4 linked regions of the Homo sapiens genome follow. The protein of the gene in region 3 interacts with the protein of the main gene of each other region in a pairwise test. Each region holds a gene or a part of one and is shown on either strand. Other genes may lie near its edges. The genes, in order: PLSCR4, VGLL3, PCSK5 and DBF4B.

Region 1 (7,026 bases), on a different chromosome or scaffold from region 3:
AGCCCATTGCTTTTTACCACCACCCATCATTTTCATTAGCTACTCTTGTCACCCCCAAAAACAAACAATATAAATAAAAATAATGGACCCTACAAAGAATATTGCTTCAGGCCAAGTTCCAGAGACCCCCTTCATACAACACAATAACTCCCTAATTAACATCTATGTAGATATTCTGCTGCCACCAGGACATGCAGATCAAAAACTGGGGTAATATGGGAAGTTTGTGCACAAATAGTTTTGTTTAAAAACCCATGTCTGAAACTAAAAAACCTGCTTAATGAAAATAAGATAAAGCTGGCAGAGTAGACGCCTTTTATTTGTGGCGTTGATTCCTGCGGTTTCAGTTACCAATGGTCAACCAGGTTCCAAAAATATTAAATGGAAAATTCTAGAAATAAACCATTCATAAATTTTAAATTTATTCTGAGTAGCATGATGAAATCTTGCACAGTCCTGCTGTGTTCTGCCTGGCACATATATCATTCCTTTGTCCAGTGTATCCACGCTGTAGATGTTATCCATAGTATACAGACCCAGAGTCACATCTTGGTTATCAGATTGACTTACAGTATCACAGTGCTTGCATTGAAGTAACTTATTTTACTTAATTATGTCTCCAAAGCACAAGAGTAGTAATGCTGGGAATTTGGATATGTCAAGGAAAGACCAAAGAGAGGCCATAAGGTCTTCCTTTCCATGTAAAGGTGAAGGTTTTTTACTTAATAATAAAAAAATTCCTATGCTAAGGTTACTAAGATCTATAGTAAAATTAATATGTCCATGAAATTGTAAAGAAGAAAAGAAAAATTTGTGCATAGTATATACAGGATTTGGTACAATCTGTGGTTTCAGGTATCCACTGAGGGCTTGGAAAGTATCCCCTGAGGATAAGAGGGAGACTACTTTATTGGAGATTCCATAGAACCTTCTGAATCTTTTTTGTTGTTGTTTATAGAAAAAGGAAGTGCTGAAATACATTATAAAGAAGAAACTTCCCAATTTAATACTTACCTCCCCAGGTCAACAGCCAAGTATTTCCTCGAGTTCTGTCATTTCTCTTTTCAATTCTGTATATTGACAGGGACCCTGATAATCTTGTGTGCTGAAAACTATTTGTATAATATTATAACATTGGTGTATAGAAGTCAATACAGTTGGATCAGGAAAATTTGGATTTTACAAAAGCCAAAATTTATCCTAAATTATTATTTGGACAAAATTTTGACAAAATGCAAAACTCATTCAGGTGAAGTGCTAGAGTAAACATCTACATTATTTCAGAAGATAATAAAATGTTTGTAGCTTATCAAGTTTAGAAAGTCTCATTTCTATACTTGGTGATAAATACAGAAGTTGTTCTTGGGAATCTAACATCTTCTACAGTCAATTCTCTTTTCAAATTGTATAGCTTTGTTTATTTAAATATTAAAAACTTGTTTCTTAATTTCTTTTATGATTCTGACAGAGGTTAATTTAACGTATTTTATGAGTTTTCCCTTTTAGGAATATTTAGAGTTAAAGAAATAAGTGAAAAAATAAACAAAACACAGGTTTGGACCCAGGCAAACCTGGTTTTTTAATTCTGTCCTACTCTCTAGTAACTCAAAAACTTTGATAAAATTTCTAACCTCTTGCTGCTTGAATTTTATCATCTATAAAATAGTATTATCAATACCTACCTTACCAGATTGTTAGGAGAATTTTTAATGAGATAAGGGTCACAATGTGCCTAATATTTTTGACATAAAGGGCCGTCCCAATGGATGAAAGCTATGTGGCTGTTATTAGCTTAAATACCTTCTTATGTGTGAATGCAAGACATAGAGCCAATCTTTTTCCTCTATCTACCCTAGTCTTTTTGAGATCTCACATGAAGATTACATGAATCTTTATCAAGGTTCCCAAGAATCCTAAAACATCCAAATTAGCACGATTATATTATTTTCAGAGTCTTGGCTTTACCAGTGACTTTACCAATTTGTCAAAGAACTACCCCTTAACAGACACATATTATTGAGTTCCAGGAAGGGACACAATAATATTGAAATTAGGCCAGTTAATAATCCTGTGATGGCCTCTGAGTGTTCAAGTGAAAGAAACAATTGCACATCTCTCACTGTAAATAAGAAAGCTGGAAATGATTTAGCTTAATGAGGAAGGCATGTTGAAAGTTGAGATAGGCCAAAAGCTAGTCTTCTAGCACCAGTTAGCCAAGCTGTGAATGCAAAGGAAAAGTTCTTGAAGGAAATTGAAAGTGATATTACTCCAATGAACATATGAATGGTGAAAAGTAAAAGAGCCTAATTGCTGATATGGAGAAAGTTTTAGTGGTCTAGAAAGAAGATCAAACCAGTCACAACATTTCCTTAAGCCAAAGCATAATTCAGAGCAAAGCCCTATCTCTCCTAAATTCTATGTAGGCTGAGAAAGGTGAGGAAGCTACAGAAAAAAAAAGTTTGAAGCTGGCAGAGGTTGGCTCACAAGGCTTAAGGGGGGAAAAAAGGCACTTTTGTAACATAGAAGTGCAAGGTGAAGCAGCAAGTCCTGATGTAGAAGCTGCAGTAAGTTTTTCAGAAGATCCTAACTATAACAAGATCATTGATGAAGGTGACTCTGCTAAACAACAGATTTTGAATATAGATGCAACAGCCTTCTGTTGGAAGAAGATGCCTTCTAGGACTTTCATAGCTAAAAAGTAGAAGTCAACGCCTGACGTGAAAACTTCAAAGGACAGACTGACTTCCCTGTTAGGGTCTCTTGCAAAACATTACTACTCACTGACAACACATCTGGTCACCCAAGAGCTCTGATGGAGACGTATAAGGAGATTAATGTTGTTTTAATGCCTGCTAACACAACATCCATTCTGCAGCCCATGGGTCAAAGTATAATTTCAATTTACAAGTCTTATTGTTAAAAAAATGAATTTCGTTAGGCTATAGTTGCCATAGATGGTGTCATTTCTCAGACAGATCTGGGCAAAATAAATTGAAAACCATGTGGAAAGGATTCACCATTCTAGATGCCAATAAGGACATTCATGATTCATGGGAAGAGGTCAAAATATCAGCATTAACAGGTGTTTGGGAGAAGCTGATTGCCACTTTTATGATGATTTTGAAGGGTTCAAGATTTCAGTGGAGGAAGTAATTTCAGATATGATGGAAACAGCAAGAGAACTAGAATTTGAAGTGGAACCTGCAGATGTGACTGAATTACTGTAACTCATGATACAACTTTAACAGATGAGCACTTGCTTCTTATGTATAAGCAAAGAAAGTGCTTCCTTGAGATGAAATTTACTCCTGGTGAGAATTCTGTGAACATTGTTGAAATGACAAAGGTTTTAGAATACTACACAAATATAATTGATAAAGCAGTGGCAGTTTTTAGGTGGATTGACTCCAATTTTGAAGGAAGTTCTACTGTGGTAAAGTACTAAAAAGAACATCATGTGCTACAAGGAAATCTTTCATGCAGAGAAGAGTCAGTCAATTGATATGGCAAACTTCATTATCTTTTGTTAAGAAATTGCTGCCGCCAACCTGGGCTTCAGCAATCACCACCCTGACCATTTAGCAATCATTAACATAGAGACAAGACCCTCTACCAGCAAGAGGATTGTGACTAGCTGAAGTCTCAGATGATTGTTAGCAGTTTTTAGCAATAAAGTTTTTTAAAATTAAGATATATACTTCTTTTAGATTAATACTCTTACACACACTGTAGACTACATTATAGTGTAAACATAATTTTAGATTCAATAAGAAAATAAAACATTCATGTCACTCACTTTCTTACAATAATTGCTTTATTGCCTTGGTCTGGAACCAAACTTGTAGTATCTTCAGAGTATGCCTGTAGTTTATATTTTTACTTTTCACTTCTAGATTTTAATACCCTACTTTTCTAAAATGGACTATAAACCATTTTAGTAGTCACTTTTGGTATTTTATGAGGCATATTTATGTCTCCTTATGTCATTGTGTTTTTATGTAAGAAAAAGGTTTTAATTAAGCATAGATTGTGCCCTTTGTACCCTCCTGTAATTAATCACACCATAAAACATTCGTGTTTAGGTACATTATTTTAATTTCATGTATTACTGCATTCATATATTCTTCATTAATTAATGTACTTAACCAATGTTTGGTGAAATATGGCACTTCAGGCAGTGTTCTGGGCTCAGGGATTAGGAATGGTCTAATGGTCTAAATGATGTAAAATTATACAAATATAATCAGTGTGTCCTCAAGAAGGTTTCTTTTCTTCTGCTAGAATGTTCTCACATGTAACAGATAATGTGCCCATCAAACTGCTCATCTTTAGAATGATTCCTAAGATAGAAATTTCTCTAATGGTATATACCCAGCCGTCCTTTTCATGGGTTGCCATCTAACAATGTTTCCTTTCTCTTCCCCTAATCCTGTTCACATGCTTCCTAGTGTAATAGACCCTTCCCTTATTAAAGTGTGCACTTGGGGAAGACCCTGGCCTTTGTAGATCAAGTGAATGCAAGTCAGTTTATAAACCTCTGCTGGAGGTACCTGTAAAATAATATAAAATGGGGACACTCCATGTGAGGTTCACCCTGGCTTGTTTGTTCTCCTTAAGCCACTGAGAGACTTCCCTTTTCTATGGCTGGTCCGTGTTAATCGTTCTGAACTTAACTAAACAACTACAGGCTATGGATGACATGTAGAGAGACCAGTGAGTAGGGACTTATCTAGGAACAATCTATAAGCACAGCTTCTTCTGATGTGATTACTACAGCAAGTAGATGTTTTGTTTTTCTGATATAGCAGACAACTTTTTTAAAGTGGTACTGAAAGAAAGTGTTTTTCTAATATGGACAACTCTGCTAATATCCATCCGATCAGATGCAGATAAGCTAATTTCAGTTGGTAAAATTTTTTTGATTCTATTGACTTTCAAAAATATATTTTGGTATCAATTGATGCATTTTAATATCTATTTCATCAGTTTATTTTACAGTGGTATTTTAGTTCTGTTATTTCTGTCTTCTGATTGCTTTGTTTTATCCCAACAGTTGGACAACATACATGTTCTTCAGCATTTTGAGCCTCTGGAAAGTATGTATAATTTTTGTAGTGCTCAGCAGTATTTTAATCAGATGGAAATTTGCATTATCCAATATCTAGTTCCTTCTTTATATTGATCATGTTTTAGTGGCTCAAAGAAAAAAAAACTGCTCTATTACCCTATCTTCAAGAAAGTAATAAAGTGAATTATTTTGTATAATTTTATCCTTCTATACATCATATAATCATAAGCTCTTAGATTTGAAAAGGGCTTACATTTTATCTGGTCAATAGCCCTACACTTTACCCATTGTTCCTACTCCACATTTACCTTTCAAAGATGAGTAAAAAAAGGAGCCAAGAGACTAAATGAGTTAGCCAGGGACACCACAGTCAGCTAATCACCTCCAGATCAGGAAATAGCATTTAAACCACAGTCAGCTAATCAGTGGCAGAGCTGGAAATAGAATCCAAATCTGCCAAATCGTAGTGCAGTGCCCTCGCTTTGGAAGTAAGAAGAAAAGATCTCAGTCAAAATGATGCCTGTTCTCAGTTCATCCTACAAGAGTACTGACCCTCACTAAACCAGCTGTGCACATTCATTTGGCCACCACATAGGGCCTTTGACTTTTCTTGGTTTGTTCTCTTGTTTGTAATTAGTAATGACCCTACTCCTCCAAGCATGTTTCGTGAACTGATTAATTAATGGTCAAATGTATAATTTTTTTAAATGGTTTTATAATTAAAGTTTTCTGAATTCAGATACTCCAGGAATTGAAACAAAAGGGTTGTTTCAATCTTTTCTTTTATGTAAAATTTTTTTAATGTTTACACTGAACTTCTTAAAAGAAATGTTTTAAATTTTCACAATTGCTTAAATACTTTTAGATAATATGATTTTTGGGGTACTCTAATCAATTCTACATATTTCACCTGAAACTTTAAAAAAGCTATGTTGCTTTAAGCCCTTAAGAAATACTAAACAAGGACTTTCTGAGGCCCATTTTAAATGTTTCTAATATAGACTTACTCATTTTATTTTTTAGTGATGACATGTTTTGAAACTAATAATAGATATGATATTAAAAACAACTCAGACCAGATGGTTTACATTGTAACCGAAGACACAGATGACTTTACCAGGAATGCCTATCGGACACTAAGGCCCTTCGTCCTCCGGGTCACTGATTGTATGGGCCGAGAAATCATGACAATGCAGAGACCCTTCAGATGCACCTGCTGTTGCTTCTGTTGCCCCTCTGCCAGACAAGAGGTCAGAGAATGGAAGTCTGATCCACAGCTTGCTTCTGATCTAACTCTTCATGGCATAGTGTGCTCCTTCCACTACATAGGGAGGATATTCCCTGGCCCTGCCAGCCAGAATGGAAGAAGATAGTGGGGAGGGAGGAAACCAAATTGTCTCGCCTAAGGAAAATCATAGAGGATTTTTTCTTTTTGGTTACTACTTTTTAGTGCTTAAATAAGTGGGTCAAGCACAATTGACATATGTGTAGTCAATAATTATGATTCCATCAGTTGCATCTACTTAATTAGAAATTTACCTACCACATTTATCTAAATGTACGTACCTATCACTAGATAAAGCAATGCTAAAGATAAACATATGCTTTTAGAATTGGAAGGGACTTAAATATGTTTAGAGTACCCATCACAACGCATACCTTGCCACAGATAAAGAGTGGCTCAAAATTACTAAATGGCTGAGGTGTTACATTTGGCTAAGGACAGGGCTGGAACTAGAATACAGATGTGCTGAGTTACAGTGTGGTTACTCATTATCTTGCATTTCTAAGCAAGTTATTTTCTGTAGGGAAAAGAGAAGCGGTTTTGGAGAGAAACCAAACAGAGTCTGAATTCTAGATATGTCACCTACTTAAATCTGTAAAATTTAATTAACCTGTTTGAGCCTTAGTGTTCTTATACATAAACTGGGTAGTATAATACATCATAGGATTACTGA
Region 2 (7,026 bases), on a different chromosome or scaffold from region 3:
CATGGCCTTCAAATCCTTTACATATATATAACTTCAATTTTATTTCATCTAAGAATTAATTGCTGTCAATTAAGGATAAAATAAAACTTTGACTTTATTTGGATTGTTAATGTAGCCAGGCTCTTCTATTTAAAGAATGAATGTTACAATTAAACAAATAAAGCATTTATATGCAAAGCCCCACTCTCACAAACTGATGCTGAGCTGGACATTAACAGAAAAAAGAAATTAGTTTCACGGATAAGAATGAACACTTGTGGACAATGATGCCACCATGTAGATAGGTTTTAGGGTTTTTTTTTTTCATAGAAAAACAGAGCTGCTTTCTAATGTGCCCGAATATTCAGCAGAGAGTGTGTGCATATGGTTAAAACAATACATGTTTTAGGTAAATACACATGCACCCGAAGAAGCAGCACTGTGATTTGACTAATAAATCATAATATTCATTTAATTTTTTAATGGAATTTAAAACTAGGAATAGTTTTAGAGGTTATTTAGTTCGATTCCCTCATTTTACACATACCATATGTTTCTATGGTGTTTATACTATTGAAGTTAAATATAAACATGTTCAAATCTGTGCAGAGGTAGATTATGAGAAATAAAAGCAATCATCTATTCATCAGCAAGGCACATTCACTTACAAAGTATGAATTATCTATTCATCAACAAATCATAACCATACTGATACGAATTTTAAATAAAAGCAAAACACATATTTATAAATAACCATCCTGAAACGATAACTAGAAGTTCATAGTATTTCTGAATATTTCAGTACTCACCTTATACAAGAACAACATATTCACTGCTAGGGGAAAGGGACCAATTTATTGAATGGTGCATTTATAATTTGAAGCTATAGATATTGAAGCTAGTAATTACATTAGAAATATAGAGTCTGGGGTATGTATTTTGCTAACATTTGAAAAATTACTGGGTATTCTGGAGTGATTTATCTATTTCTACTCACATTCATTTTCCAGCATGCGTTTTTTTCAAAGTAAAAAAAAAAAAAAGGTATGATCAAGGATCAGGTTTTGCAGACATAAAGATGACAGAGAAAGCTCATTTCGTCACTAGAATAATACATTTCATATCTTTAGCATTATCTCCTTATATGTAATTCGCATTGAAGTTGATAATAAATGGAATATGTGCTCAGTGAAAAATGTTTGGAAATACTGAAAAGCAGAAATAAGAAAATGACAATTAACTATAAACGTATTACACAGAAAAACAATACAAAATACATTTTTGTAATTTTTTTACTCTAGATATCCCTCCCTGCCTTTCCCCACCAAATGTATGCACACGCATATCTATATGCTAGATATCCCTCCCTGCCATTCCTCAGAACATATATATGCACACACATGTCTATACCTGTATGTTTTTCTTATGCATTCTGACTCTGCAGCTTACATGATTTGTGACTTTTGGCAAGTAACTTAATTTTTCTGTGCTTTAGCTTTTTAATCTTTACAATATGGATAGTATTAATAGCCATGTTATAGAATTGTAAAGATTAAGTGAGGTGATAAATATAAAGTTTTAGAAACATGTCTGAAATAATGTATATTATTATTAGAATTATATTTTTAAACATTTTAAATTAACAAATCTTTCTCATTTTTAATTGAAAGATTAACCCACTACTAGTATTTTGTAATATTTTCACTAAGCCATAATGAAATCTTTTCCCCTCATGATAATGGTGGTAAACGGAACATCTAAAAAATATGTTCCATGCAAAATGCATCTTCACACAGACTTATTTTGCCATTTTAGTTTGATTTTTGAAGACATGAGTTCAGCACATCTGCCAAATCCTTTTATAAGATGCTACATTCCTGTTTTTATTTTAGTTTATTTTATTTATGAAAAGTTCTTTTCTTCTCCACTCCACCCCCAGACAGTCATTCCTCTCTGTCCTAAACCATAACACTGCTGTACATTGCATTTTTAAAAATAAACCAAAACTGGGAAGAAAAACTTTTTAAAAAAGTAATTCTCCTGTTGGCCTAGCTAGATGAAAAAACAAAAAGCAAAACAAAAACAAAAGCAAAAACAAAATCTTGTATTGAAAATATACTATTTGATAATGGGCTTTTATGTTCGTTTGCCAAATGTAGAATCACAGAGTTTTTGTTGTATTTTTTTTAGTGTGGGAAGGAGGCAACTGGTTTGGGGAGGAAAAAGATGGAGTAAAACAGATGAAGAAGAATCAGTTTGCAAACATATGTTAATATTTAGATTCTTTTTTTAAAAAAGTGAAAACTTAACTAGTGAATGCTTTTCTACAAACTGTCTTTGATACTGTGTTTTGTTTATTCCATCCCAGAAGAAGTTAGCGGTATTCAGCAAGATGCAGGACTCTCTGGAAGTCACCCTTCCCAGCAAACAAGAGGAGGAGGATGAGGAGGAGGAGGAGGAGGAGAAAGACCAGCCTGCCGAGATGGAGTACCTTAACTCTCGCTGTGTCCTTTTCACTTATTTCCAGGGAGACATTGGGTCAGTAGTGGATGAACACTTCTCAAGAGCTTTGGGCCAAGCCATCACCCTCCATCCAGAATCTGCCATTTCAAAAAGCAAGATGGGGCTAACCCCCCTATGGCGAGGTAAGAATTCAAAAGCAGATGTTCTCCAGGGCACTGTCTTTGTTTCGCAACTGCCTGTACCAGGTTCCAGCTGGAGACTTGCCCCTGAGGATGGATATCCACTTGCTTTTTAATATTTAAGGACAGTGAGGAATTTCTTTCAGACAAACAGCTGGATCGGTTTTGTCACATGTGGAATGTAGGGTTGGAAAGGATGCAGTCACACCCCTTAAATTCCTCATGGAAAGTAGTGATACAACCGGCTTGAGTTTATAGTGGCTGCACTGAGCTGCGAAGTACCATTCCTAAAGCCCCAGTGGCCCAATTTGGATCTCTAAATAATAGGCGTGTCTAAATCAGCTTTTAAAAAATTAGCTCTTGCTCATTCCAATAGGTGCTATGTGGTGACATACCAGAGACCTGAGTCTGACCCAGGAATACAGACATTGAAAGCTGTCTGTGTTCTTTGAATAGGCTTCTTTATCCTGATTTGTTATTGTATTAACTCTTTATAGTATACACTCTAGGCATTTTGGCAGCATCCACATGGCTTAAACTAGTGTTTTTACCTTGATAAAGAAAGAGCAGCACATTGGACTCCTTTATTTCTCTCTGTATCGAGCTCACAGAGATGTGTTTGAAACTGATTTCTGACTCATAGAAAATTATTGGTGACATCTAAATCAGGGTAATTACAGGGTTAGATAAAAACATAATACGTCATTCCAATGACAGCTTCAGAGAAATTTGCTACAGTGGTGATTTCTTCCAAATTCACCTGGTTATAGGAATGATCTAGTAAAATGGTTCTCGAGGTGTGATTTTCCTGACCAGGAACATCAGTGCCACATGGGAGCTTGTTAGAAGTGCGAATTCTTGGGCTCCACCCCAGACCTGCAGAATCAGAAGCTCTGGGGTGGGGCAATCTGTGTTTTAACCAGCCCTCCCAGTGACTCCAGTGCAGAGTTTGATAATCATTGATCTAGTCCTGTTAAGGACAGTTTGCAGGACCCCCTTATCTCGAATCTATTGAACTAGAATCTTCATAGGAAGGTGTGGGAATCACACTTTAACAAGGGCTCTGGGTAATTCCTATCATGAGGAAAAGCTGGCTACCTGTGGGCAGGGCCAGGTGAGCAGTGAGCAGTGACTAGTGGTACCTTCTGGGCAGCACAGGAATGGTTCTGCTCTACTGTAGAAGTCCTGGCCACATGGAATTGCTGGGCCTGATCTTTTCTTACCTACTTGACCTTTCTTTTCTTCTCTCCCTCCCTCCCTTCTTACCCTCTCTCCTTCCTTCCCTCCCTGTTTGCCTCTTCTCCTCTCCTCTCCTTCTTTTTTTTCTTTGCTTCTTTACTTTTCTTTTTAGTAAATATAAACAACACTAAACAGTGACTATAAAGGGGAAGGTGGAATACAAATAAAATATCCAAGGCCTTGATGGAAATGAACTGAAAAACATACTAGTTATTTGATTAGTAAATAATATGGGCTTACTATGAGAACTGAGACTTAGTCCTTGGAAGCCTATGATGCTTATGTAATAGACTAATGTCCTATTTAACAGGACGTGATGAATAATTTTAATAATTTGTAGAGGAAGAAAATAGGAAAACATTAGTGAGTTAGATGGCTTTAATAAATAATTTGATATATCAATAATGAATCCTATTAAGATAATCAGTGCCAGGAGAGTAATAAATATAATGTCTACTTCTTTTAGCACATGGGCATATGCAACCTTGCTATCATTTAAACTGAAAAATCAGAATTAATGTCCCAAATTATTTCTTGGTGTGAGAGTGATTGTCTATAGAATCATATTCAAAATAATTTTTAGTGGGATGTTGTGAATGTGCAGAAACCCTACAACACATCAGCATTTTCTCTGTAATTTGCAAAACACATTACACAAGTTCCTTTAGCAGATGTTAAACTGTAGCATAGAAAGGGTTAATAAAGGCAATGTTTTCATAACTACTACTAAAGTTTTCTTGGAACTATCTTAAATTTGATCTTCAAATATGTCTCCTGTTTTATTCATTGACATATTCAGCAAACATTTATTAACCTCCTGCTATGTGTTAGGCAATGTGCTAAGTCCTGAGACAGCCCAAGGCTCTACCCTCATGGAGCTTTTAGGGTAGAAACAGGAAACAAACAATTGTTACAAAATATGTTATTTTACATAAGGTGATAACAAAAGCCCTGTGTGGCACAGTTATGTTTGAGCAGATAGCTGAAGGAAATAAGAATACTCATCATGTGGTTACCTAGGGGAAAGTAATTCTACACAGAAGGGACAGATAGTGCAAAGGCCCTGAAGATGGACTGAGCTTAGAATATTCAATGAGAAGCAAAGATGCTGGTGTGAGGTGAATGAAATGCAAAGTAATAGGTGGAGAACAGATGCTTTAGAACTTTTTTTTTTTGAGATGGAGTTTCGCTCTTGTCACCCAGGCTGGAGTGCAGTGGTGCGATCTCGGCTCACTGCAACCTCCGCCTCCCCAGTTCCAGCGATTCTCCTGCCTCAGCCTCCTGAGTAGCTGGGATTACAGGGACCCTCCACCATGCCCAGCTAATTTTTGTATTTTTTTGGTAGAGACGGGGTTTCACCATGTTGGCCAGGCTGGTCTTGAACTCCTGACCTCAGGTGATCTGCCCGCCTCGGCCTCCCAAAGTGCTCGGAGCCACACTTACAGATGTGAGCCACCGCGCCCCACTGTTTTAGAGCTTTTTACATCAGTTTATCAGCATATACCAGGAGCACACAGCATGCGCTTCAATTTTCATCTCCTATTATCCCACTAAGTCTACAAATACCATATCTTCTTATGGTGCCTCATTTTTTCTGATGCTCACAACAATGTGTTTCTATGTGGAAAATCTGAAATAGATATGCATTGAATGATTAAGTGACTGAATTAAATGAACCAATTTCATACCATGTATCCGGAATTAGAAAACAAGAGTCTTTAATAGAAAATTTCTTGGTAATAAGTTATATGAACTCTTTGGGTACAGTTTTTTTTAATTTATAAAATAAGGGGGTTAAATTAAATAATTGGTAAAAATATTTTCTTCTGTAAAGTTCTGTAATTTCAAAGGTATTATTTGCTTTTCTTAGATCTTTGTCATAATTGTCTTAAGTTGTGAATTAGACAGATTTAGATAAATATATAAAACTTGTGTAGGATTTATAGGAAAGCCACAAACGATAATTAAAAATATAGAAAATGTCTTAAAGAAGAGGTTCAATAAAATGAGACTCACATTTTTATTCTCATAAAATGAGAGAGTTGGTGACAATTTAATATTAATTGGCAAAGCTACACAGGATTGGAAAATACAGTCTTTGGAGTCCATTTGTTTTAGATTCATGTTCCAGCCTTTACCTTCTGGTTGCAATGTGATCTTGGATTACTAAATTGAAATCTCTTACATCAACTTCCTCAACTGTAATATGTGTTTATTGATACCCATCTCATAGAGTTATTGTAAAGATTTTTAAATAATGTATATGAATAATTTAGCATAGAGCTTGACTCAAGGTGCTAAATGAAAGCCAGATGCCTTTTCTCTCTTCCTTAAGTAAGTTTCCACTCATTTGACACATAGAAAACAAACCCTGAGCCTTTATCCAGGAACATTGTTTTCTGGAACTTTGTGTTTTTGGTACAAAACACACAGTCTTAGATAATAGTAGATACTAAAGGCTAATGATAATGTTAGTGGCCATGGCAATGATGCTTAGAAAGGAACTGCTGACCGAGTATTAAAGGGTCTAGTTTACAGCATAAAGTTATTACAGTGCCACAGAAGTGCTACCATGCTACAAACAAATTTAATAACTGAATCGTGTTTGACTAAGAATATATTTACACGGTAAATCTTTAGACAAAGAATAGTGTGTCAGCTAATAATGAAAGAATGGTTATACTTTGAATGTATATCTCCTTCATGAAGCTAGGTAAGTTTTTTTAGGTGTTTTTCAGCTGTAAGGCAAACAATGATAGGAAGTATATGTATTTTACTTGGCACAATGTCTTATCAGTTACCTCTAATCCTGCTATATATTCTAACAGGGTTGAAAGAATTTCATTTCTTTCCATTAAGAAAACCTAACTAGCTGGGCGTGGTGGCTCATGCCTGTAATCTCAGCACTTTGGGAGGCCGCGGCCGGGCAGTTCACCTGAGGTCAGGAGTTCGAGACCAGCCTAGGCAACATTGTGAAACCCCATCTCTACTAAAAACACAAAAAATTAGCCAGGCAAGGTGACAGCCACCTGTAATCTCAGCTACTTAGGAGACTGAGACAGGAGAATCGCTTGAACCCGGGAGGTGGAGGTTGCAGTGAGTCGAGATTATGCCATTGTACTCCAGCCTGTGTGACAGAGTGAGACTCTATCTAAAAAAAAAAAAA
Region 3 (7,026 bases):
GGAAAATTCGATGCCATTACAGAATGGCTTGTTATTATTTTGTTGCAGTTTGGGTAATTATAGTGAGCCTTACTAATATTTCTGAGATGGCTATTGCAGGAAAGCCCTCTCTGGATACAACAGAGAAAATAAAATAATAATTTTCTCTCATTTTGCAAAAGAATGGTCCACCCCAGAGCTCAAGGGCTGTACTCAACTCATGGCCCCACACCATTGGCCCAGAGCTCTGGAAATCTCCGGAAGAAATGTGAAAGGAATGTGAAGACCCTTTCCCAGGGGAAGCCATTCCCACGAGGGCCACCCTGGCTCTCGCTCACTCTGTCTGCTGCCCCTCCACGCCCACAGATTGCCACAAGTCCTGCTTGACCTGCTCATCATCTGGGACCTGCACCACCTGTCAGAAAGGCCTGATCATGAACCCTCGTGGGAGCTGCATGGCCAACGAGAAGTGCTCACCCTCCGAGTACTGGGATGAGGATGCTCCCGGGTGCAAGCCCTGCCATGTTAAGTGCTTCCACTGCATGGGGCCGGCGGAGGACCAGTGTCAAACATGCCCCATGAACAGCCTTCTTCTCAGTGAGTTACTTCTCCGAGGACAGCTTTGTGTTTCCATCTCTCTGGGAAACTGCCTTGCACACTGCCTTGTCCAGTAGATACTGGCTTCTTTCTTTTTGATTTTTTGCTTTGTGTTTGGGAAATGTTCAAACCTGCAGAAAAGATGCAAGAGTAAGAACTGTACAAAGAACAGCGCACGGATGTGCTTCATCCAGTTCGCAAATTGCTCATCTTCTACACCATTTGCTTTATCATTTGTTCGTGGGCTCTCTCCCCCCTTCTCACTCATTCTCTCTCTCTCTATCGCTCTCTTCCTCTCACTCTCTCAATGTATACATGTACATCATTCCCAATACATATTTTTCGAAGCCATTTGAAGGCATACATCATGGCCCCTTTCCCATAAATATTTTAGTGCCTATTTCCTCAGATTAGTGATATTTTCTTACATAACCGCAGGATAGTTATCAACTCTAATAAATTGTACATTCATACAATACTTTAATATACTATCCATATTACAATTTTCTCAGTGCCCCTTTAGGATTCAGGCTAGAGTCAGTTGTTTCATTTAGCTTCCATGTCCCTTTTTTGTTTGTTTGTTTGTTGGGAAGGAGTCTCACTCAGTTGCTCAGAGTGGAGTGCAGTGGTATGATCTCGGCTCACTGCAACCTCTGACTCCTGGGTTCAAGCAATTGTCATGCCTCAGTCTTCTGAGTAGCTGGGATTACAGGTGGGCACCATCGCTCCCGGCTAATTTTTTTTTTTTTTTGTATTTTTGGTAGAGACGGGGTTTCACCATGTTGGCCAGGCTGGTCTTGAACTCCTGGCCTCAAGCAGTCTGCCCTCCTCAGCCTCCCAAAGTGCTGGGATTACAGGTGTGAGCCACTGCGCCCGGCCACTTTTTTGTTTGTTTGTTTTTTGTTTTAAGAGACAAGTTGGCCAGGCGCAGTACCCAGGCTGTTGGAGTGCAGTGGCACGATCATGGTTCACTGCAGCCTTGAACTCCTGGGCTCAAGAGATCCTCCTGCCTCAGCCTCCCAAGTAGATGGGATGGGATTACAGGCATGAACCACCATGCCTGGCCCTTCCATGTCATGTCCAGCCATTTTTTTTTCTTTTTAGAGACAAGGGTCTCACTGTGTTCCCCAGGCTGGTCTTGAATTCCTGGGCTCTAGCTATTCTCCTGCCTCAGTCTCCCAAAGTGCTGGGATTACAGGCATGAACCACTATGCCAGGCCCTTCCATGTCCCTTTAGCCTCCTTTAATATGAAATGTTTCCACACACTTTCTTTTTCTTTCACAATATCAATGCTTTAGAAAAATACAGTCTTGGCTGGGCACGGTGGCTCACACCTGTAATCCCAGCACTTTGGGAGGCTGAGGTGGGCAGATCATGAGGTCAGGAGTTCAAGACCAGCCTGACCAACATGATGAAATCCCATCTCTACTAAAAATACAAAAATTAGCCAGGTGTGGTGGTGGGCACCTGTAGTCCCAGCTACTCGGGAGGCTGAGGCAGGGGAATCGCTTGAACCCGGGAGACAGAGGTTGCAGTGATCCGAGATCGCACCACTACACTCCAGCCTAGGCAACAGAGCAAGACTCTATCTCAGAAAAAAAAGAAAAGAAAGGAAAAATACAGTCTTCATTTTTCCTTTCGGGTGACTGTGAAGTTGCCCGTGATCAGTTGCAGAGTGTGCATGCTTGGCCAGCATACTTCAGAAGTGATGTTGTATCCTCCGAGAGTCACACCTGGAGGAACGTGATCTCCACATGCCTTTCCTCGGTGATATTAATGTTGATCACCTGGCCAAGATGTTCAGTTTCCCTACTGCATAATTACTATTTATTCCCTTGTAACTAATAAGTAGCCTGTGGGGTTACACTTTAAGAACATGTAGATATTCAGCTCCTCATCAAAATTTCCCCTCCATTTAGCATGGTTGATTAAGAAATCCCTCTTGAGCAAAAAGTGGCACAGGTCAAGGTTGGCCACGGTCCCACAGATCAGAGTTGAAGGTTATTGCTAATATGAAACAATGTCCTCAGGTTCCCAGGGATACTGTGACTAGGCTTAAAACAAGCATGGGAGAAAGAAAATGAAACAAAACTTAACTAAAAAAGAAGTCATAGGAGACAGAAGAGAGAGATGAATATGGTGAAGACCAGGAAGTATGAGCACTTTTCTCCCCCACCAGGAGAGTAGACCTGAGAAGCGTGAAACTCCAAATAGACATGTGTGGTAGGCTGGGCGCAGTGGCTCATGCCTGTAATCCCAGCACTTTGGGAGGTCGAGGCAGGAGGATTGCTTGAGCCCAGGAGTTCAAGGCCAGTCTAGGCAACATAGTGAGACTTCATCTCTACAAAAAATGGAAAAAAATTAAAATTTTAAATTTAAAAATTTTAAACATTAAAAAAAAATGTTTTAAAGACATGCATGGCAAGCTTTTCCTCTTCATATTGAGCGAGGACACCATCCCCCTGCTAAGACACAGGGAGACCTATTCTCAATACCATTCCTGATCACTTCACAATAGAAAACACTCAAAGAGACCAGTCTTCTCTATCCATCTACCTTAGCTCCTGGTCCACAAATCTCTGTGACTCTCCTTCCCAGCAGTTGCTGCTTCATAAAAGCATTCCCTCCAGCCACGTCTCCCAGGTAATCCCACCCCGTCGGACCTTCTTTTCTACTTACGTCCAATCTAGAGTGCCACCAGTAATCATCTCAGATGCCTTCATATAGAGAAGACAGCTTGCCTCCACAAAGTGGTCTTCCCCTCATCCGAGGCTGCAGATTAGACTAGAATTGAGGCTTCAGTGCTGGTATAGGACACAGAGCTGTAGTCCCCCTGGGAAATGGGTGCAGATTTGCTCAGCCTGGTATCCTCACATTCTCTCTACCCTGTCCCACACCACCACACCACCAGGGTCAGGCTATTTATAAATTAGATACTTTTTTTGGACATCGTGGTAGACTGAATAATGGCCCCCCTGAAGATGACACATCCTGATCCCCAGATCCTGTAAATGTATTACTCTACTTGGTAAAGGACTTTGGGGCAGTGATTTAGTTGAGGATCTCGGCATAGAGAGATTATCCTGCATTATCCACGTAGACCCAATGCCATCACAAGGGTCTGATAAGAGAGATGCCGGGGGTGGGCCAGGCATGGTGGCTCACGCCTGTAATCCCAGCACTTTGGGAGGCCGAGGTGGGCGGATCACAAGGTCAGGAGATCGAGACCATCCTGGCTAAAACGGTGAAACCCCGTCTCTACTAAAAATACAAAAAATTAGCTGGGTGTGGTGGCAGGTGCCTGTAGTCCCAGCTACTCGGGAGGCTTAGGCAGGAGAATGGTGTGAACCCGGAAGGTGGAGCTTGCAGTGAGCCAAGATTGTGCCACTGCACTCCAGCCTGGGCGACAGAGTGAGACTCCATCTCAAAAAAAAAAAAAAAGAGAGATGCCAGGGGATCAGAGTCAGTAATAGAAGGTGATGTGATCAGAAGCAGAGGGACAGAGAGAAGCTACTGCACTGCTGCCTTTGAAGACAGAGGAAGGGGCCATGAGCCAAGGCATGCAGGTGGACTCTAGCAAGTGGAAAAGGAAAGGAAACAGATTCCCTCCTAGAGCCTCTAAAAGGAACAGAGCCCTGTGGATCTATTTTGGACTTCTGACCTCCAGAACAGTAAGATAATAAATTGTTGTTTCAAGGCCCCAAGTTGGGGATACTTCATAGGAACAGCAATAAGAGACTAATACGGCGGTGTTTTTCCTTCAGGAAGCTGGGGCTTCCCCCTAGTTAACCAGATACATGAGCTGGACAATGAGCCATTGCCAACATCCACAGGCGCCGGACTGTAGTTTCTGTTCTACCCACCACAGCTAATCCACTGAGAAATTTGGGTGGGACACAGATGAGATTTGGATCTCTGATGAGATGAGATGGGATCACTGATGAGATTTGGGTGGGACACAGAGCCAAACCATATCACTGACTTCTGTTTTCCTTGTATTCCTCATGGCCTTAGGGCAATTCTGTTTCTTGGACACTAATCTTATTTCCCAAACATATCCATCAGCTCACAGGATCATCCCATTCCTCCTGCAGCCCTCTCCTCCCTCCCGCCATGGTACACAAGAGGGAAAATACAGGGGAGACATGTGTCATGCTCGATGTCCAAATAGACATTTTTTCTCCCATGACAGACACAACCTGTGTGAAGGACTGCCCAGAGGGCTATTATGCCGATGAGGACAGCAACCGGTGTGCCCACTGCCACAGCTCTTGCAGGACATGTGAAGGGAGACACAGCAGGCAGTGCCACTCCTGCCGACCGGGCTGGTTCCAGCTAGGAAAAGAGTGCCTGCTCCAGTGCAGGGAAGGGTAAGTGCTCAATACATTTTCCCCCATGTAATTTCACAGCCACAGCAGATATCAACCCATTTTACAAATGAGGAAACTAAGATTCAGAACACTTATAAAACCAGGTTGAAGTCTCAGTGCTAGTAAGGAGCAAAGATGAACCAATTCACAGTAACAGAAGAGAAACAGGAGAGGCAGAGTGACCGAGTGAGTTAACACAAAGGGTCAGATTGTCAAGCCGGACTCACCTGAGCAATTGATCTTCCTCAACGACAGTCCTTACTGAAAATTCAAAGCATATTGGCAGCTGGGCACTGTGGCTCATGCCTGTAATCCCAACTACGTGGGAGGTTGAGGCTGGAGGATCACTTAAGGCAGGAGTTTGAACCAGTATGGGCAACATCTTGAGACCCCATCTGTAAAATATTAAAATAAGATTAGCTGGGCATGGTGCCATCAGGCTATAGTCCCAGCTTCTATAGAAGCTGAGGCAGGGGATGATCACTTGAACCCAGGAGTTGGAGGCTGCAGTAAGCTATGATTGCACCACTGCACTCCAGCCTCAGTGACAGAGCAAGACCTTGTTTCTAAAAATTAAAACAATTTGGCAAAGGGTCTCAGCAATCACAAGGCAGAAGCAAAGCATCCTTTCCTCAGAGAAGCCCAAGATCATTAATGGAGGTTCTTTTTCTTCACCTTCAGGACTTGTTCTGATTCAGATTTAAAATTCAGGGTCTCACATTCTCCCAACCTGCTTATGTGAGGAGAGCAGTGAGTGTGGAACATTGATTTACAAAGGAAATAGTTCCATTAACATCTCCATTTATTCCCCATTAATTCCCCAACCTGTCATGTCACCTATAAATCCACAAATTACAGGTTTTGTTATCATAAACAACGTAGACACACGCACTTGATGTATCCTTCTAAAAGCATTTCATGGATAAGGACTCTATTATTTTTCTGCTAGGAAGAACTGTTAGTGTTATCAGAAGGTCTGATTGCCAGCATATCCTTTTTCTCCCCCAGGCATTCCCAGTAAAGAGTAAAAGATTGATGATAGGCCTGTTGCTGACTCTTTCTACCCAATCAATAACCTAGAGCACTGGGAGTTTCCAGACCCAAATCAAGGGCTGTAACCTTAGACCTTCCTCAAATGCTTTCACCCAAATTGACACATCTCTTCGGTCCTATAGCAGTTACTGCTTGTTTCATTCATTTTAGTGCTATATGCTGCCTTGCATTTTGATTTATCTCATTCATTCACTTATTTATTTAACACATTTCATGATGAGTACTTTGTATGTATAAATAAGATGAGTAAAAGAAAGACTGACTGTGTTTGTTTTCACGCGGCTGATAAAGACATACCCAAAGACTGGGCAATTTACAAACTAAAGAGGTTTAATTCGACTTACAGTTCCATGTGGATGGGGAGGCCTCACAATCATGGCAGAAGGCAAGTAGGAGCAAGTCACATCTTATGTGGATAGCGGCAGGCAAAGAGAGAGAATGAGAGCCAGGCGAAACGGGTTTCTCCTTATCAAACCGTCAGATCTCGTAAGACTTATTCACAACAGCAAGAACAGCATGGGGGAAACCGCCCCTACAATCCAACCATCTCCCACAGGGTCCCTCCCACAGCACATGGGAATTATGGGAGTACAATTCAAGATGAGATTTGGGTGAGACACAGAACCAAACCATATCACTGACTTTAAGAGTTTATTCTTATTTTTATATGCCTCTTCCCAAGAAAATTATAAACTCATGGAAGAAAAACACCTCTTACGTCTTACATTTGCTTCTACAACACTCAGCACAGAGCCACACATTGGCAGCTCTTGAAAAACACCAGCCAGGCTGGGCAGGGTGGCTCACGCCTATAATCCCAGCACTTTGGGAGGCCGAGGTGGGTGGGAGGTGAGGTTAGGAGTTTGAGACCAGCCTGGCCAACAGGGTGAAACCCCATCTCTACTAAAAATACAAAAACTAGCCAGGCATGGTGGCACGTGCCTGTCATCCCAGCTACTTGGGAGGCTGAGGGAGGAGAATTGCTTGAACCCAGGAGGCCAAGGTTGCAGTGAGCCAAGATCACAC
Region 4 (7,570 bases), on a different chromosome or scaffold from region 3:
ATTTTTTATGGCTGTATAGTATCCCATGGTGTATATGTACCACATTTACTTTATCCAATCCACCATTCACGGGGTACCTAGGTTGTTTCTATGTCTTTGCTACTGTGAATAGTGTGGTAATAAACATAGTGCAGGTGTCCTTTTGGTAGAATGGTTTATTTTCCTTTGGGTATATACCAAGTAATGGGATTGCTGGGTCACATGATAGTTCTATTTTTAGTTCTTTGAGAAATCACACTGCTTTCCACAGGGGCTGAACTAATTTACATTCTCACCAACAGTATATAAGCATTACCTTTTCTCCATAGACTGGCCAACATTTATTATCTTTTGGCTTTTTAATAGTAGCCATTCTGACTGGTATGAGATGGTATCTCATTGTGGTTTTAATTTACATTTCTCTGATGATCAATGATATTAAGCATTTTTTCATGTTTGTTGCCACTTGTATGTCTTTTTTTAAGATATGTCTGCTCATGTTTTTGCCTTTTTTTTTTTTTTTTTTTTTGAGACAAGGTCTTGGTCTGTCGTTCAGGCTGGAGTGCAGTGGCATGATCTTGGCTCACTGCAGACTTGACCTTCTGGCCCAGGTGATCCTCCTACCTCAGCCTCCCAAGTAGCTGGGGCTGCAGGCATATGCCACCAGGCCTAGCTAATTTAAAAAAATTTTTATATAGATGGGCCTCCCTATTTTGCCCAGGCTGACCTTGAACTCCTGAGCTCAAGTAAAGCCTCCTACCTTGGCCTCCCAAAGTGTTGAGATTACAGGCATGAGCCCCTGCATCTGGCCTTTGCCCACTTTTTAATTAGGTTTTTTTGTTGTCGTTGATTTATTTAAGTTCCTTATAGATTCTGGATATTAGTCCTTTGTCAGATGCATAGTTTGCAAATATGTTCTCCCATTCTGTAGGTTGTTTACTTCATTGATAGTTTCTTTTGCTGTGCTTTGGAAGCTCTTTAGTTTAATTAGGTGCCAGTTGTCAATTTTTTTTTTTTTTGTCGTAATTGCTTTTGAGGACTCAGGCTGATATCTAGACAGTATTTCCTAGGTTTTGTTCCAGAATTTTTAGTTTGATGTCTTACATTTAAGTCTTTCATCCACCTTGAGTTAATTTTTGTATATGGTAAGAGGTAGGGGTCCAGTTTCATTCTTCTGCATATGGTTAACCAGTTTTCCCAGCATCATTTATTGAACAGGGAGTCCTTTCCCCATTACTCATAGGTGTACAGCTTTATTTTTGGGTTCTTTATTCTGTTCCATTGGTCTATGTGTCTATTTTTATGCCACTACCATGCTGTTTTGGTTACTGTAGCCTTGTTTAGTTTGAAGTCAGGTAATGTAATGCCTCTGGCTTTGTTCTTTTAGCTTAGGATTGCTTTGGCGATTCAGGCTCTTTTTTTCATTCTATATGCATTTTAGAATAGTTTTTTTTTCTGATTCTGTGAAAAATTACATTGGTAATTTGATAGGAATAGCACTGAATCTGTAGATTGTTTTGGGCAGTATGGACATTCTAATGATATTGACTCTTCCAATCCATGATCATGGAATGTTTTTCTATTCGTTTGTGTCTTTTATTATTTCTTTCAGCAGCAGTGTTTTATAGTTCTTGTAGAGATCTTTCACCTCCTTGGTGAGATGTATTCCTAGGGATTGTTTTGTGTGTGTGGCTCTTTTTTTTTTAATGAGACAGAGTCTCGTTCTGTTGCCCAGGCTGGAGTGCAGTGGGGTGATCTCGTCTTACTGCAAGCTCTGCCTCCCGGGTTCATGCCATTCTCCTGCCTCAGCCTCCCAAGTAACTGGGACTACAGGCACCAGCCACCACACCTGGCTAATTTTTTGTATTTTTAGTAGAGACGGGGTTTCACCATGTTAGCCAGGATGGTCTCGATCTCCTGACCTCGTGATCTGCCCGCCTCGGCCTCCCAAAGTACTGGGATTACAGGTGTGAGCCACCATGCCCGGCTGGCGCTTTTTTTTTTTTTTTTTTTGACAGAGTCTCGTCACCCAGGCTGGAATGCAGTGGTGTGAGCTTGGCTCACTGCAATCTTCGCCTCCTGGGCTCAAGTGATCCTTGTGCCTCAGCCACCTGAATAGCTGGGATTACAGTTGCACACCATCACTCCAGGCTAATTTTTGTATTTTTAGTGGAGATGGGGTTTCACCATGTTGGCCAGGCTGGTCTCGAACTCCTGGCCTCAAGTGATCCACCCTCCTCAGCCTCCCAAAGTGCTGGGATTACAGGTGTGAGCCAACATGCCCAGCCTGTGTGTGTGGCTGTTGTACATGAGATCACATTCTTGATTTGGCTCTCAGCTTGAACGTTATTGGTGTATAGAAATGCTACTGATTTTTGTGTGTTGACTTTTTTTTAATCCTAAAATTTTATTAAAGTAATTTATTGGGTCTAGGAGCCTTTTGGTGGAGTCCTCATGGTTTTCTAGCTATAGAATCATATCATCAGTAAGCAGAGATAATTTGATTTTCTCTTTACCTATTTGGATGCCTTTTGTTTCTTTTTCTTGCTGATTGCTCTGGCTAGGATTCCCTAAATACATTTATATTTTAAAGTATTTTCATTTTTTGGAGTTGCATAGTGTTGCACAGTATGACTACACCATAATTTATTTAACCTACTGCCCGTTGTTAATCAATATTTTCGTTGCTTTTGATCTTTTGGTATTGCAAACAATGCTGAGGCAGATACCTTTATTATACAAATTCTGTCACACATGTGAAAAAAGAACATGCTGAACCATCTTGCCTCTTAAAGTTTCTGCTTGGAAGTGATGTCACTTTTTTCTTTTTTCATGAGCCAAAGCAAGTCATATGGCCAAGGCTTCGTTCGTTCATCAGGGCTGAGATGTATAAGCTTCCTCAGGGAGGAGTCCCACTGGAAGAGATACCAAGTTTATGTACTGTATATACCTCTACCAGTGTTTAAAAAATATCACCCTGGGCCAGGCGCGGTGGCTCACACCTGTAATCTCAGCACTTTGGGAGGCCGAGGCGGATGAATCACCTGAGGTCAGGAGTTCGAGACCAGCCTGGCCAACCTGGTGAAACCCCGACTCTACTAAAATACAAAAATTAGCCGGGCATGGTGGCAGGCACCTGTAATCCCAGCTACTCGGGAGGCTGAGGCAGGAGAATGGCCTGAACCCGGGAGGCAAAGGTTGCAGTGAGCCAAGATTGCGCCACTGCACTCCAGCCTGGGCGACAGAGCGAGACTCCCTCTCAATAAAAAAATAAATAAATATAAAAACTATCACTCTGGTTGCTGAATGGAGAATGGATTATACTGGGGAGAGATAGGAAGCTACTCGGGAGTAGAAGTGAAGAATTGACCGCAGTACTTTAGGCAAGAAATGATAGCAGCTTGAACTAGGGTGGTGGTGGTCTGATTCCAGATGTACTTTGGAGGCAGAGTTAGTAGGATTTTTTTCTTGGAGTGGGGATGGGCACAAGGGAAAGTACTGAAAGACAACTTCTAGGTTTTTGGTTTGAGCAACTGGGTGAATGATTGTGACATTTGAGTAAACAGTAACATTTTACTGAGAGGGGAAGACCTGGGGGGAGAACAGGTGGTTTTTTGACAGGGGCAGCGAAACAAATGTTCTGTTTTGAATGTGTTCAGCCTGAGGTGCCTATTAGACATCCAAATTGAAATAGCCAGTAGGCACTTGAATATGTGAGTCTGGAGATCAGACAGGTCAGAGCTACAGAAAATCTGAAGGTGTGGCAGAGCTGAATTGTAAAGCTGTGGAGCTGGATGAGATCTCCTAGGGAGATAAGGGAGAGGGATAAGGGCTAAAGCGTTGGCATACTCCAAAATATATAGGTGAACAGTGGCTTTGGATCCAGCAAAGGGGACTGAGGAGGAACCATTGAGATAGGGAAAAAAACGGTAGAGTGCTGAGTCATGGAAGCAAAAAGAAGAAAGTATTTCAAAGAAGGAATAGTCCATCTATAAGTTGGATATGATAAGGATAGTATTTCAGACTGTGGAAATCACAGTTGACCTGGATAAGTACAGTTTTTGTGGGGAGGTCCCCAGCTCTCCACTGAATGATCTCTTATTAGATCAAATTTGATCTCTAATTAGCAGTCTAATTAGATGGGTTGAAGAAAAGATGGGAAGTGAGGGATAAAGATACGTCTTTTGAGAAGTTTTGTTGGGCAGGTAATAATTGAAGAACGGGAGGGGGACAAAAATGTGAAGATGAAATGATGTGTAAGTGAAATCTTTATGTAAACTGCAAATGCTCTGCAAGTGTTAGGCTTATTTTGTTATTTAGTATTCAAACTTCTAGGAATTTCAATGCAGCTCAGTGTGAAGAATCACTAAAAAGCGACCACTAGTCCTCAACTTGAGGGCCATTAAGGGGCAAAGCCGTCTAGCCAGTGAAGAGCCAAGAAATGAAGAGACGGTTTGAGAAGACGTAGGCGGTGGGGGAACGGAAAGAGGAATCGCGAAACTAATATTGTCCTTCCAAGGACACCGTAGGGCGGATCTCGCAGCTACGGCGTTCTTTTAGGGGTGGAGCCGGCAGGAAATTTAAACTGAAGCCGCGGCCGAAAACGCCAAGAGATTGATGCTGTAGCTGCCCTGAGATAACCAGGACTGTGGAATCGGGAAGAGCTCATGGAGCTCGCGAATGTAATACGGAGGCCTCTGAGGAAGGAGTACGGAGGCCGAGAAGGAGCCGGCATTTGATGAGCGAACCGGGAAAGGGTACGGATGCCGGGAAGGGGAGAAAGAAAGGCGGAAGGGGTCGTTAATAGCTGAGGCGAGGTGCGGAGTCGTGGAGGGGGCTTAGGAAGTGACCAGCGGGTAGGTGCCGAAGCTGAGGAGGGTATAGGGGCCGGGAAGGAGCCACAGGAGTTGAGGGGACCGAGGAATGAAGGTGGCAGAGGAACGTAGGGGACAACAGCCTGGAGGGATGTATGGAGATTGAGATGGACAGGAGGTGGCCAAGAGGTCACGGCCGTTGACTGAACGGAGTCTGAAAGGAGGCGGAGGGCATGAGGGGCAAGAGCCTGGCGGGAGTCGCGGGATGTAGGTCGGAATGGAGTTGAGTCTTGCTGTTCCCAGGAGTCGCGTTTCTGTGCGCGTTTTGGGAGACAGTAGTGGGCGGGAGGCATGGAAGTTCCAAGGGTTGGTGAAGATGGTTGAGTTGCTGTTATGTCCTTTCTCAGGAGACGATTGCCTCGAGCTGGAGAGTTCCATGGCTGAGAGTAGGCTCCGGGCCCCGGACCTAGGTGGGTAACAGGACAGAACTAGGGACGTGAGGTGAAAATTGCCCCAGGGTCTCTTGGAGAAGACCGAAAAATGTTCCCCCTGTTGGAGTTTTCGATCACTCAGTGTTTTTATGTACTTATTTATTCATTTTATTTATTGGGATGGGGTCTTGCTGTGTTGGCCAAGCTGGTCTCAAACTCCTGGCCTCAAGCAGTTCTCCTGCCTAGGCCTCCCAAAATGCTGGGATTACAGGTGTGAGCCACTTCACCAGGCCCACTTAGTGGTTTTATGTGTGTGTGTGTATGGACGCAGCATCATAGACCGTTTTGGGATTCATGATAAAGGTCAAGTAAGAGTCATATTATGAACAAGATTAACAGACAGATGTGGAGTCAGGATAGAGTGACTTATTAAATATATAAATTAATACATTCATAGTTGTTTACAATAAAATCCTTAAGTTAAACACTGCTACCTAATTAGGTAAGTATTTTAGCACATGGCACTTCCCTCCGTACTGCCCCTTTAGTTAATATCATCTAGTTGGCCGGGCGCGGCTGCTCACGCCTGTAATCCCAGCACTTTGGGAGGCCAAGGCGGGCGGATCACGAGGTCAGGAGATTGAGACCATCCTGGCTAACACAGTGAAACCCCATCTCTACTAAAAATACAAAAAATTAGGCGGGCGTGGTGAGGCGTGCCTGTAGTCCCAGCTACTCAGGAGGCTGAGGCAGGAAAATTGATTGAACCCAGGAGGCGGAGGTTGCAGCGAGCCGAGATTGCGCCACTGCACTCCAACCTGGGCGACCGAGCGAGACTCCGTCTCAAAAAAAAGAAAAAAAAAATACCGTCTACTTTTACTTCTGGATTGTTAACAGATATGCCATCGGCTTGTTGCCTTTTAAACAGTAATCCACTTCATTTACTGAGTTATTCATTCTTCCCATCTCTTGTTGGTTTTTTTTCCCCCTTCTGTTTCTCTGGAGAACTTCAAGAGTGTTTTCAAAAGGAGGCTTTGTGTGATAAACTAAGAATATATTTATTTCAGCCTTGTAGTAAAATTTAAGTCAATTTTTTTTCCTTCAACACATTGAAAAATTACAGTATTTTCTCCTTGTTTTCTTCAGCATTTCTTTTTTATTCTTGCTGCTTTGTAAGTGACCTCCTTTTCTCATTAGATGTTTTAGATTATGTGAACCTATGGATTATATTGATGAAAGAAAAAAATGTTTTATTTTATTTATTTTGAGGTCTTGCACCCAGGCTGGAGTGCAGTGGAGCAATCATGGCTCACTGCAGGTTTGGCCTCACCGGGATCAAGTGATCCTCCCACCTCAGACTCCCAGGTAGCTGGGACTGCAGGCACTCAACACCACGCCCAGCTAATTTTTTTTTGTTGTTTGTTTTGTAGAGACGAGGTTTTGCCATGTTGCCCAGGCCGGTCTTCAACTCCTGGGCTCAAGCGATCACCCTCCTCAGCTTCCCAAAGTGTTGGGATTACAGGAGTGAGCCACTGCACCCAGCCCAATATTTTAGATTATACATTTTTATATTTGTTCTTAAAATTTACTATAAGATGATAATGTGTGGATTTTAGAGGGTTTTTATTTTCGTTTTTATTCCAGTTTGATTTTTTTTTTTTTTTTTTTTTTTTTTTGAGACAGAGTCTCGCTTTGTCGCCCAGGCTGGAGTGCAGTGGCACCATCTCGGCTCACTGCAACCTCTGCCTCCAGAATTCAAGCAATTCTTTTGCCTCAGTCTCCTGAGTAGCTGGGATTACAGGAGCACGCCACCATGCCCGGCTAATTTTTGTATTTTCACTAGAGACAGGGTTCCACCATGTTGGTCAGGCTAGTCTTGAACTCCCGACCTCATGATCCACCTGCTTCAGCCTCCCAAAATACTGGGATTATAGGCGTGAGCCACCACACCTGGCCTCCAGATTGATTCTTTAAATTTTTTTAAATTATTATTTTATTTTAGAGACAAGAACTTGCTCTGTTACCCAGGCTAGAGTACAGTGGCACAATCATAGCTCACTGCAGCCTCAAAGCCCTGGGTGCAAGCAATTCTCCTGCCTCAGTCTCCCAATCTCCTGCCTCAGTCTCCCAAGTAGCTATGTCTTCAGGTGCATGTCTCCACACCTGGCTTCCTGTTTGATTCTTGACATAGCTTAAAAGGCAGGCCATGTGTGGTGGCTCACACTTGTAATCCCAGCACTTTGGGAGGCCAAGGCAGGCGGATCACCTGAGATCAGGAGTTCAAGACCAGCCTGGGCAACGTGGTGAAACCCTGTCTCTACTAAAAATACAAAAAACAGAGCCGGG

What was found.
Region 1: the proteins of PCSK5 (region 3) and PLSCR4 interact in binary tests that used the Homo sapiens proteins (3 or more experiments, as listed by UniProt).
Region 2: the proteins of PCSK5 (region 3) and VGLL3 interact in binary tests that used the Homo sapiens proteins (3 or more experiments, as listed by UniProt).
Region 4: the proteins of PCSK5 (region 3) and DBF4B interact in binary tests that used the Homo sapiens proteins (3 or more experiments, as listed by UniProt).

What each region holds. Positions count from the first base shown.
Region 1 is NC_000003.12:146,199,105-146,206,130, reverse strand, and holds part of PLSCR4 (phospholipid scramblase 4), read left to right. Parts: intron 1-5,053; coding exon 5,054-5,096; intron 5,097-6,091; coding exon 6,092-6,318; intron 6,319-7,026. UniProt on the Homo sapiens protein: Catalyzes metal ion-induced ATP-independent rapid bidirectional and non-specific movement of phospholipids (lipid scrambling or lipid flip-flop) between the inner and outer leaflet of the plasma membrane and participates in the redistribution of phospholipids between membrane leaflets.
Region 2 is NC_000003.12:86,974,124-86,981,149, reverse strand, and holds part of VGLL3 (transcription cofactor vestigial-like protein 3), read left to right. Parts: intron 1-2,347; coding exon 2,348-2,624; intron 2,625-7,026. UniProt on the Homo sapiens protein: May act as a specific coactivator for the mammalian TEFs.
Region 3 is NC_000009.12:76,327,664-76,334,689, forward strand, and holds part of PCSK5 (proprotein convertase subtilisin/kexin type 5 isoform 3 precursor), read left to right. Parts: exon of another isoform or gene 1-345; coding exon 346-576; exon of another isoform or gene 577-707; intron 708-3,256; exon of another isoform or gene 3,257-3,890; intron 3,891-4,769; coding exon 4,770-4,947; intron 4,948-7,026. UniProt on the Homo sapiens protein: Serine endoprotease that processes various proproteins by cleavage at paired basic amino acids, recognizing the RXXX[KR]R consensus motif. Likely functions in the constitutive and regulated secretory pathways.
Region 4 is NC_000017.11:44,704,104-44,711,673, forward strand, and holds the start of DBF4B (protein DBF4 homolog B), read left to right. Parts: upstream 1-4,561; 5' UTR 4,562-4,717; coding exon 4,718-4,736; intron 4,737-4,748; exon of another isoform or gene 4,749-4,835; intron 4,836-5,196; exon of another isoform or gene 5,197-5,200; coding exon 5,201-5,263; intron 5,264-7,570. UniProt on the Homo sapiens protein: Regulatory subunit for CDC7 which activates its kinase activity thereby playing a central role in DNA replication and cell proliferation. Required for progression of S and M phases.